Regions from separate parts of the Homo sapiens genome. Here region 1 is reported to be linked to region 2. Evidence: microRNA targets listed by miRTarBase, many of them from high-throughput screens and not tested one by one. Region 2 holds a microRNA gene; the other region holds the end of a gene's coding sequence.

Evidence for each region. Region 2 holds the annotated microRNA hsa-miR-3139 (UAGGAGCUCAACAGAUGCCUGUU, at 2,058-2,080, opposite strand). A microRNA usually pairs through its seed, bases 2 to 8, with sites in the 3' UTR of a target mRNA and lowers its output. Matches are read on the target gene's strand: a 7mer-m8 pairs with bases 2 to 8, a 7mer-A1 pairs with bases 2 to 7 and ends in A, and an 8mer does both.
Region 1: miRTarBase lists NOS1AP as a target of hsa-miR-3139. Seed matches in the 3' UTR shown: 7mer-m8 at 728-734 and 7mer-m8 at 1,762-1,768.

What each region holds. Positions count from the first base shown.
Region 1 is chr1:162,366,944-162,372,320 of GRCh38, forward strand. NOS1AP (nitric oxide synthase 1 adaptor protein) reads left to right here. Exons shown (of 10, transcript NM_014697.3): 10 at 109-3,532. The coding sequence ends at 524. Among named protein-coding and RNA genes, the nearest start is that of SPATA46, 7.2 kb to the right of the region's middle. RefSeq lists an enhancer at 260-759.
Region 2 is chr4:143,340,172-143,345,548 of GRCh38, reverse strand. MIR3139 (microRNA 3139) reads right to left here and starts at 2,089; the gene lies at 2,014-2,089. All of the region lies in intron 1 of GAB1 (GRB2 associated binding protein 1), which reads right to left.

The DNA.
Region 1 (5,377 bases), not on the chromosome of region 2:
CTGGTCTGGGAAGGGCTTTGGCAGGGCACGGGCGGGCAGAAGGCGGGCATCCCAAATCAACAACCTTGCCTAACGCTGCCCCTCTGCTACCTCTTGTCTCCCCTGCAGTGGGCTCCCAGGACAGCTTGCTGGAGATCACCTTCCGCTCCGGAGCCCTGCCCGTGCTCTGTGACCCCACGACCCCTAAGCCAGAGGACCTGCATTCGCCGCCGCTGGGCGCGGGCTTGGCTGACTTTGCCCACCCTGCGGGCAGCCCCTTAGGTAGGCGCGACTGCTTGGTGAAGCTGGAGTGCTTTCGCTTTCTTCCGCCCGAGGACACCCCGCCCCCAGCGCAGGGCGAGGCGCTCCTGGGCGGTCTGGAGCTCATCAAGTTCCGAGAGTCAGGCATCGCCTCGGAGTACGAGTCCAACACGGACGAGAGCGAGGAGCGCGACTCGTGGTCCCAGGAGGAGCTGCCGCGCCTGCTGAATGTCCTGCAGAGGCAGGAACTGGGCGACGGCCTGGATGATGAGATCGCCGTGTAGGTGCCGAGGGCGAGGAGATGGAGGCGGCGGCGTGGCTGGAGGGGCCGTGTCTGGCTGCTGCCCGGGTAGGGGATGCCCAGTGAATGTGCACTGCCGAGGAGAATGCCAGCCAGGGCCCGGGAGAGTGTGAGGTTTCAGGAAAGTATTGAGATTCTGCTTTGGAGGGTAAAGTGGGGAAGAAATCGGATTCCCAGAGGTGAATCAGCTCCTCTCCTACTTGTGACTAGAGGGTGGTGGAGGTAAGGCCTTCCAGAGCCCATGGCTTCAGGAGAGGGTCTCTCTCCAGGACTGCCAGGCTGCTGGAGGACCTGCCCCTACCTGCTGCATCGTCAGGCTCCCACGCTTTGTCCGTGATGCCCCCCTACCCCCTCACTCTCCCCGTCTCCATGGTCCCGACCAGGAAGGGAAGCCATCGGTACCTTCTCAGGTACTTTGTTTCTGGATATCACGATGCTGCGAGTTGCCTAACCCTCCCCCTACCTTTATGAGAGGAATTCCTTCTCCAGGCCCTTGCTGAGATTGTAGAGATTGAGTGCTCTGGACCGCAAAAGCCAGGCTAGTCCTTGTAGGGTGAGCATGGAATTGGAATGTGTCACAGTGGATAAGCTTTTAGAGGAACTGAATCCAAACATTTTCTCCAGCCGGACATTGAATGTTGCTACAAAGGGAGCCTTGAAGCTTTAACATGGTTCAGGCCCTTGGTGTGAGAGCCCAGGGGGAGGACAGCTTGTCTGCTGCTCCAAATCACTTAGATCTGATTCCTGTTTTGAAAGTCCTGCCCTGCCTTCCTCCTGCCTGTAGCCCAGCCCATCTAAATGGAAGCTGGGAATTGCCCCTCACCTCCCCTGTGTCCTGTCCAGCTGAAGCTTTTGCAGCACTTTACCTCTCTGAAAGCCCCAGAGGACCAGAGCCCCCAGCCTTACCTCTCAACCTGTCCCCTCCACTGGGCAGTGGTGGTCAGTTTTTACTGCAAAAAAAAAAAAAGAAAAAAGAGAAAGAAAAAAAAGAATGAATGCAAGCTGATAGCTGAGACTGTGAGACTGTTTTTGTCCACTCTTCTGAATCACTGCCACTTGGGTCAGGGACCACAGCCATTGCCACCCTTGGCCCATCTCTCTGCGTGCGTGCCTTGAGCACACATATAAAAAGTGCCATGTGCAATTGTCTTATCTTTTATGATCTAGGCTTTGCCTAGGGATCACTACTCCTTAACGGGCTGGCTGGGGCAATGAGGAAAAGCTCCTTTGCTCCTGTAAGGCCATAAGTGGCTGTTAACAGATTTTCAAATGCCTGAAGAGATTGCTGAGACCTGCTAGAGTCATATGTTCGGGGAATTAAGTCTTTATCCTAGACAACAAGGTACAGATGCAAACTGCAGTGTTATTGGAGGGTCAATCGGCAAGGATATGATTATCCCAAAATGGAGTTCATCGACCCTAGCTTTCCTTTAGATTATATATAAATAAAAGTGCAGTCCTCTTCTAATGGCCACAGTTGGTTTTCTTGTAGCCCAGAAAGTCCAAATTAAAGGAAATAAATTCAGTTTTATGTTAGCCTTCCTTGGTGCATCAGGGTGTCAGTGGAAATAGGATCAGGTGGTGTGTGTGTGTGTGTTTTGTGTGTGTGTGTACACATGTGTTTATATATACATGTGTGAGGGAAAGTGTGTACATATATGTAGGATTGTAACCAGACGGAAAAGAACGAGGATCTCCAGGGTGTTTGAATCAGCAACAGATTTGTGTTTTCTAACATGCATTTAGTTGGAGAGGCATGGTTCTGTTTGTTTTGTTTTGATCTAATTTGCCATTGGAAATAGGTACAGTTACACAGAGAAGGAAGAACCAGGAAAGTGAGATCCATGAAACTAAATGAGCAGCTGTCAGAATCCAGTGTGGCTGAGCCTACCTAGCTTATGAAATCTAACCCAGGGTTCCCTGAGTCCAAGACCACTTAGATTATTAAGATTTTGAACGTCCAGAGGAGTGAAAAGTCTGTTTTCTGACGTAAGCCGGAGCTGAGGATAAAGCCAGAGGCCAGTGGATTAGGTGTATGGAATGTGGATGGAGAGGGCTTGTGTGGGATGTGGCCAGGGAGTGGGTGAGGAAGGCCGCTTCTAAATGGCCTGTAAAAACTTGAGATTGGATAGACGAAAGGAAATGGAGAAATTAAAGAATTGGAGAAACTAGTTATCTGTGTTGCTGACTTTGGGACCCATCCAAGACTCCTGCCCTTGGGGTGTTCCATGGTGGTTTCTTCCTGCCTGGGCGCCACCCTTTCCCCAGTTCAGGCCCTCCCTGGAGGACTAGTTTGTGTATTGGTATCCTCCCCAGTGGACCCAAACCAGCGCATACTTGGTGTGTGGAGATGGGAGACAAAGGACAGATCTAGGAGCCTTGAAGGATCACCAGCCACCGACCCTCCATCAGGGCCAACTGGGCAGGAAAGGGAACATTGCAGACCTGATTTCCCGACGATGTCACCCTGTCCTCCCTCCTTGCTTCTTGCTCTGCTAACTCAACTCTGCCTTCCTCTTTTTCATTCTTCTACTCTGCCCTATATGGAGGACAAATGGACACCAGGGGTGCTAACCTTATTGGTGCCTGCCCCAGCCTACCCCAGGTGCCAGCAGACTCTCGTGCACAGGAGGCTCCCACAGTTATGGAGCCAGGAAAGAATTTCTCTGCACTGGATGGACTGTATATTGAGATTAAAAATTATATTCCTTATATTCCTGCTTATATCAATGCTCTCTCTGTAAAACCTCTTCCTAGCCTCATTTCTCTCAACTGATCTTGTTTAGGCGTTGTATTCCTTTTATTTACTCTTTGCTTGACTGCTTCCTCCTAACCCTCTACCCACTAGCACTCTACTTCCTAAAGCTGTTGTGTCATTAACTCTGTTGGATCAACTCTCTGGGAAAAGATTCTGTTAATGTAAGTGCACTTACTCCCTGGATGTTGTCACTAGTCTAGTGGCTTTTGCTAAATAAACCTTTCTTATTTCTAGAAGCTTTTCCATTGTCTTTTCTTGCTGCTTCTATTCCACCTGCTCCTTCTCTCCCCCTCACTTCCACCCCACTTCCCAAGCCAAGTGGCATCAGCTCTGTGAGATGGTTCCCAAGGGTATGGGATTGAGGAAAGATTCACAAGTTCCCTGTAGGAGGAGAGGAAGATGGTGGCTTCATTTGCACTTTATATAGATCAGCCCTGCGGGATCAGAGGTATCAGTGGTTCTTAACTAGGCCTGATTTTTCCTCACCAGGGGACATCTGACAATGTCTAGAAATGTTTTTGGTTGTCACAAAGCTACTGGCATGTAGTGAGTGAAGCCAGGGATACTGATCAATATCCTACAATGCACAGGACAGCCCCCCACAACAAAGAATCATCCAGCCCCAAATGTCAGTAGTCCTGAGATTGGGAAACTCGTCTACACCCATTTTTGCCGACTCTGCCAATCCCAGGTTTTTTCAAACTCCAAATATCATTAGAATATGTGGGTAGTAGCAGCCAGTTGGTTTTTTTGGTTTTGGGTTTCAGGGCTTTTTGTTTTTCAGGTGTTTTTAAGGCAGGGTCTCACTCTGTCGCCCAGGCTGGAGTGCATGATCATGGCTCACTGCAGCCCTGACCTCCCTGGGCTCCATGATCCTCCCACTTCAGCCTCCTGAGTAGCAGGACTACAGGTGTGTGCCACCACACCCAGCTAATTTTTCTATTTTTTGTAGAGACGGGTTTCGCCATGTTGTCCGGGCTGGTTTCAAACTCTTGAGCTCAAGCAATTCTCCCACCTTGGCCTCCCAAAGTGCTGGGATTGCAGGCATGAGCCACCACACCTGGCCAGCATCAAGTTCTGAGTGCTTGAAAAATTACTACATCATAGATATTTGCCAATATAACTGTGTAATTGTATAAACAAGATTATTCAGCTCATGCCAGTAATCCCAGCACTTTGGGAGGCCGAGGCAGGTGGATCGCTTGTGCTCAGGAGTTTGAATCAACCTGGGCAACATGGGGAAAGACCGTTACTAAAAAAAAAAAAACATAAAAATTAGCCACGCATGGTGGTGAGTGGCTGTGGTCCAAGCTACTTGGGAGGCTGAGGTGGGAGGATGGCTTCAGCCTGGGAGGCGGAGGTTGCAGTGAGCCGAGATCATGCCACTGCACGCTCCAGCCTTGATGATAGAGCGAGACCCTGTCTCAAGGAAAAGAAAAAAAAAAAGATTATACTATTTCACGGACTTCATGACTAAATGCCTGAAATATGTAGTTGGTAGAAGTCTGAATAGGCCCATTCCAGAAATGTTCATACTGGGGACAAAACTGGCTCCTCCTCATACCTACCTCGGCGGGGATCATGGTATCACTATGACACAGCTCAGCACAGAAGTCCTGATTCATGGGAATGTAGGCTTCCCTGCAAGGAGTACAAATGAAAGGGCAGAGGAGCCTGGTAAAGGAGGGAGTGTTTGAGGAATGAGGAGCTGTGGGATCACACAGAACAGACTTTAGAAAAGCCAGGTCACTTTGGCTGGAACTTTTAGCCATTTTGCAGGCAGAGGATGTGTTAGGCCTGATGGCTTCGTCAGGCCCAGGCTAGAGAGAAAGTTGAAAAGGTTAGATCAACTGGGTTCACATGCTCTCTGTTCTTTTCTGGCTAAGTGAACTGAACTGAGTTTTGTATTCTCATCTCGAAAATGGGGATAGTATAAACCACACAAAGCTACTATGGAAAGTAAATGAGATTGTATTTTAAAAGCACCCAGTAGAGAGTGCCTGGCAGTGACCCAGGGTACAGAACAATTTCCCTTTTAGGGAGCTTCCTTCTGCCTGCACCTGTGCTGCTCAGTACAG
Region 2 (5,377 bases):
AAACCAAAAGAAAATAAATAAAAAAGGGAAAGGAAAAACAACAGGATAGTTAAAGCAAAGTTTAATATTTGTCTTCCTAAAAAAAGAAAGGCTTAATATTTTTACATTGAAATGTTTGGACTCTTGGTATGTTGTTTTTAATTCATGAGACAATGTGGCCATTTGTTTTTTCCTCTTAGGACATTGTTTTTTGAACACATAACTTAAGAGAACTACCTAGGCCAAGTATGAATTCAAAGTAAAAAGCTGGGAGAAAAGAAAACCACCATCAGAAAAGCACTTGGTAAATTTGGCATTCTTTCTAATATATAAAAATAAAAGAAAACTCAGTTTAGAAAGATGATAAACATTATTGAAACACACACTAAGAGGTGAGGAAAGAATGATTAAATGGTAGAAAAAAGTTAACTCACATTTCTCCTTCTAGAAGCTCTATTCCTTTATAACTTATATCCTTCACGTGCAGTTTGCATATAGTAGCTCTGCTAAAAACAACCACATGGAAAATTTTTGTTCCAGATAATACTGCAGGACAGGGCTTGGCAGCTACAAGTTGTAATCAGAATGCTTCAAGAGCTAATGTAACAGAGATAACAACCAAACATGCATTACAGTGCATAGTCTTAATTCTTTTTAAAAACGGGCTGGGAGAAGGTCAAAAGCTCTTAGGTTATAGTGTACTTTATTCAGTAATGCGACCTTTTAAACTAGGGAGAACTTCGCTCCTATGAATAAGTGAATTGCTTAAAAGAGAAATGATTCTTTTTTCCAGTTAGGGCATTCTTCTATTATTTAAGATGCTCAAACATAGAAGCCTAGAATGAGCAAAAAATTCCAGTTCCTAAAAATGACTTTTCTCAGCAATTCTACAGGCCTAAATTGTCATCTACAATTTATTGAGGCTCCTATAGCCATCCCACTGGCAACGGAAGAGCCTAGTTATTTAATAAATATGGAAATCCACAGTACAATGGGCCACTTTTTGCCAGGGGTAATATAAAAAAGAAAGAATGCTAATTTTATGTGTGTTATACCCCAAGAGGGGAGAATAAAGAGAACTGTGACTTGATAAGTTTTCTGTATTAGTTGGCAGACTGAGATAAAAGGAGTCACAGAAAGATCGTGACTTCAATCCAAGTTCAAATGGCAAATTCAGATGGAGCTCTAACTTGGTGGAAATTAGGCGCCATGTTGATGCGAGGAATGTGAAATGAGAGAAACCCCTCCATCCACAGGGAGAGGGGGTTTCATGTGATCCGTTGGTGTTATTCTCTCCCCCCCAACACGAGCTGGCACTCACACAGCTGGGCTAAGATGGCTTCCAAAGTCCGAAATAAGACGCTAGCCCAAGGCAGCCCTGGTCCTGCTGCTGGAACTCAGAAGCAAATGAATCAAAGGCTCTTTTATTCTCCCTCCCACCAGAACATGCTCCCTCTCTGTTGTAAACTAACTGCTTGCCAGAATGAATTACTTAGCTTAAAACAGACATAAAGAAATCTTAAACAACTCATGTCCCTTGGAATTTTAATAAGTTCAGGTGACCAAACAAGTTGTTTTGTTCATTTCTAGTTTGATGCAGAAAATTCACTTGTGCTCAGGAACCCATGAGGAACATTAGATCTTAGCAGAAACAAAAACTTCTCAAACTAGAAGATACAGCTGACAGCCAAACTCCTCACATGAAACTGGGGTGCTGGGAAGCAGTTTTTTTCATGAGGACATCTAAACTCAACACAAATCTTTGTTCTTCCTTTAAAACCAGCCCTCCCTTAAGATTTTGCTGTTGCTGCCAGCAGTACACCAGCTCTTCTAAAAGCAAAGTGTAAAATTCATTTGCGGAGTCTTCCCTGGCATCTCGTACCCCTGCATCCCCTGTTCTCACTCTAAACTTTCATTTGGCAACTAATCATATATCATAGCTCCTATAAAATGACTGACAGCTTGTCTTCACAAACAGATTAGAAACTCCTTAAGGGCAGAGAGTGGGCCTTTCCTTCCTTGCATTCCACACATGGCACATAACAAAAGCTCCTGCGATACCTGTTTATTATTCAGTCAACAGGCATCTGTTGAGCTCCTACTCTGAGCCAGGCATTGCACAGGGGCTCAAGACACAGCACCCAGCCCAGGAGCACAGCAGCCAAAGGCCCTGCATGCAGGTCTGCCTTCAGTTAAAAACCAAGAGTCCCCAAAGAATACTGCTTAAGCAGTCACTAAACTATTTAAGATAAATAGTAAAGATTTCCCCACAAGGAAGATTTATGTCCCCCAAAAATTTATGTTGCAGCTTATTGAAGAGCTCCCCATTTGTCCCTTCCACCCAAGAAAATGTCTGAGAAGAGGAACGCTAAACTGCAACAGGGCTTCTGCTGAAGATCTACAGCTCCTCCCTCCCCCATTTTACAGGTAAGGAAACTGAGGATCAGAATGGTCAAATGCTCCTGTGGGTGGGTAATGGCAAAACCAAGTAGAATCCGGGTCCTGACACTCAGTCTGAGTTTCCTTCCACTATAGCAAAACATCCCCACTAAAAGCATCAGTGGGTGCATCAAATTACATTTTAATACAAAATTCTTCAAAAGTAAAGTAGTAGCCCATCTACTACAATGCTCCTTCTGGCTGTCAGTCTCTGTAAGAAAATTAGGACTGCTGAGTACCTAACACATGTTTTGAATCTATCACCTCTGGCTGGGCACGGTGGCTCACACCTGTAATCCCAGCACTTTGGGAGGCTGAGGCGGGCGGATCACCTGAGGTCAGGAGTTCGAGACCAGCCTGGCCAACATGGCAAAACCCCATCTCTACTAAAAATACAAAAAAAAAATTTGCCGGGCGTGGTGGCAGGAGCCTGTAATCCCAGCTACTTGGGAGGTTGAGGCAGGAGAATCAGTTAAATCCGGGAGATGGAGGTTGCAGTGAGCCATGAGCCAAGATCATGCCATTGTACTCCAGCCTGGACAAGAGCGAAACTCCATCTCAAAAAAAAAAAAAAAAAAAAAAAAAAAGAATCTATCACCTCTGAAACTTTCTCAGTCTGCAAATTGTCAATAGCTTATCTACATATTTTTATGTTAAGTCTAAAATATGGGATTTTACTTACTCTCAAAAAACGCTGTGTGTTTTACTCCTTACATTTTTAAGCAGGTTATGGCAAAATACACTGAAATAACCAGTCACTTGTCAAACAGATTATCCAACTATAACTCTTGCCACTTTTTGTTCCAAGATGATCTCTTAAAAAAATAATTTTAAAGAGCCAGCAGAATTCTCAAACTACCCCCTCCAAACTAATGCACCTTCCTAACAGTAATTCTGAATCTCAAAAGGTAGCAATCAGATTTGGAGATTCAGCAAGTTGCACGTGGAGAGTTCTACACTTATCATTCAGCCCAGGCACAACAAATGAACTATCATTAACCATCATAAAGGCTTAATGTAATTGCAAGTTGATGATCTCTGTTAACAGAAAAAACATTCTTGCTACACTTGAAAAGGTAAAAACATTGGGAGTCTGAATTATGTTTACTAACATGAGGATGGCAAGAAAAAATTTCCTTCAATAGAATAATTATGCTTATTCAGTCACTGTAAGCAGAAACATCAGAATCCATTGATTGCTAGTGGTAATTGTCAAAAAAGGATAGGAAGAGCTTCTAGACATGACAGTCCTCTTTGTTGTAGTGACACTATTGAGCAGGGGTTTCATGCTTAGCACAGGTCCTGGGTTGTCCTTGAACCAAGGAGATGCTGACACTTGGCCTGCCCACGCCCCTCTCCTCCATGTCAGATGTCAGGTGCCCACCCAGTAGGAGAGGCTATTTCTGTTTCTAGGCCCATTTCCAGAACCAGGGGTGTGTTTTTGAAGTCCAGACAAGAGTTGTCCTGTTAATTGACAGCTGCAGAGCAGACAGAGAGCCCACGCTGGGTACAGATTACCTACCTAAGAACTGGCTGGGGCCTTGCTACCAGGCTGGCTGTCAGCTAACAGGCCACCTTGCTCTGGCCTCAGAAGCAGGTTCTCCTGCTGAGATTGTGCACCTGCCCAATGCTGACAGCTGGGCTATGGAGGAGCCCAAACTTAGTGTTTGGGCTTCAGGCAAGGAAGCTCCTCCTCCAGAGCGATGGTGGTAGCCAGCTGTCTTGAAACAATACTTTATTTACAGACTTGCATCTTATTTCAGCTAAAATTTCAGGTTCTGATGAAAATTTCACCATCATTTCTTTAAATAATTCTTTAAAAATCTGAGCACCATTGTTGAGTGCATACTACCAAGACTTTACTTGTTTTCTGTAATCCTAGTGACAGTAATCTGTTTATGATTCCATCAGGTCCTTAACAAAGTAAAAAAGCAGCTGTTTAATATATAACACAGCATGAAAACAGCAACACCACAGTAGCAACCCTGAAAAGAAGCATTAAAATTTTCACCTACATTTTAAGTAGATTTTAAAAACTTCCAGGAGAATGAAACACATACAAGAAAGAACCTTTTGCGAATATAGAAAAAATTAAAAAGAGAAGGAAAAGCTGGGGAATCTGCTGACTACTCTTGACTTTCATTTTTTTGTGTGTCATTCTTTAGAAAATTCAAGAAAAGCTTACACATCAGACTAACACACTAGCGTGTACAAAAAACAATCCTGCTTGAGTTGACTATGAAACAGTAAACATAAAACGGAGCTGTAAATGGAATACATTGGGGGCCATATATGAGATGGCTTTAAAGCTAAAACTAAAACAATTTAAGGCCAGGCGTGGTGGCTCATGCCTGTAATCCCAGGACTTTGGGAGGCTGAGGTGGGTGGATCACCTGAGGTCAGGAGTTTGAGACCAGCCTGGCGAAATCCCATCTCTACTGAAAATACAAAAATTAGCTGGGTGTGGAGGGGGATGCCTATAATCCCAGCTACTGGGGAGGCTGAGGCAGAAGAACTGCTTGTATCTGGGAGGCAGAGGTTGCAGTGAGCCGAGATAGTGCCACTGCACTCCAGTCTGGGTGACAGAGCAAGACTCCATCTCAAAAAAAAATTAATTAAAAAAAACTAAAACAATTTTTTTGTCACTTAAAAGCCCTTATGGATCATCTTAATCAGTGTTCGGACTACCCTATAAATGCTGTAAACAGTGAGACAACTGTCAAAGTCCCATGGGCCAAATATTTCCAAACAGAATCATGATGCTCAAACTCCCTGAAGTCTCATTTAATAATTATAGTATCAAGCATCCAAGATATCTTTTCATAGCAAATCCATTCATTACAAATCATTATCCACAAACATTTTGCCTACTGGGTGGCCAACAATGTTTCCTTTATCCAGAAAAATAAACATTCTACATAAAAAAAACAAGCATAGGAAATGCACGTATACATGTCTA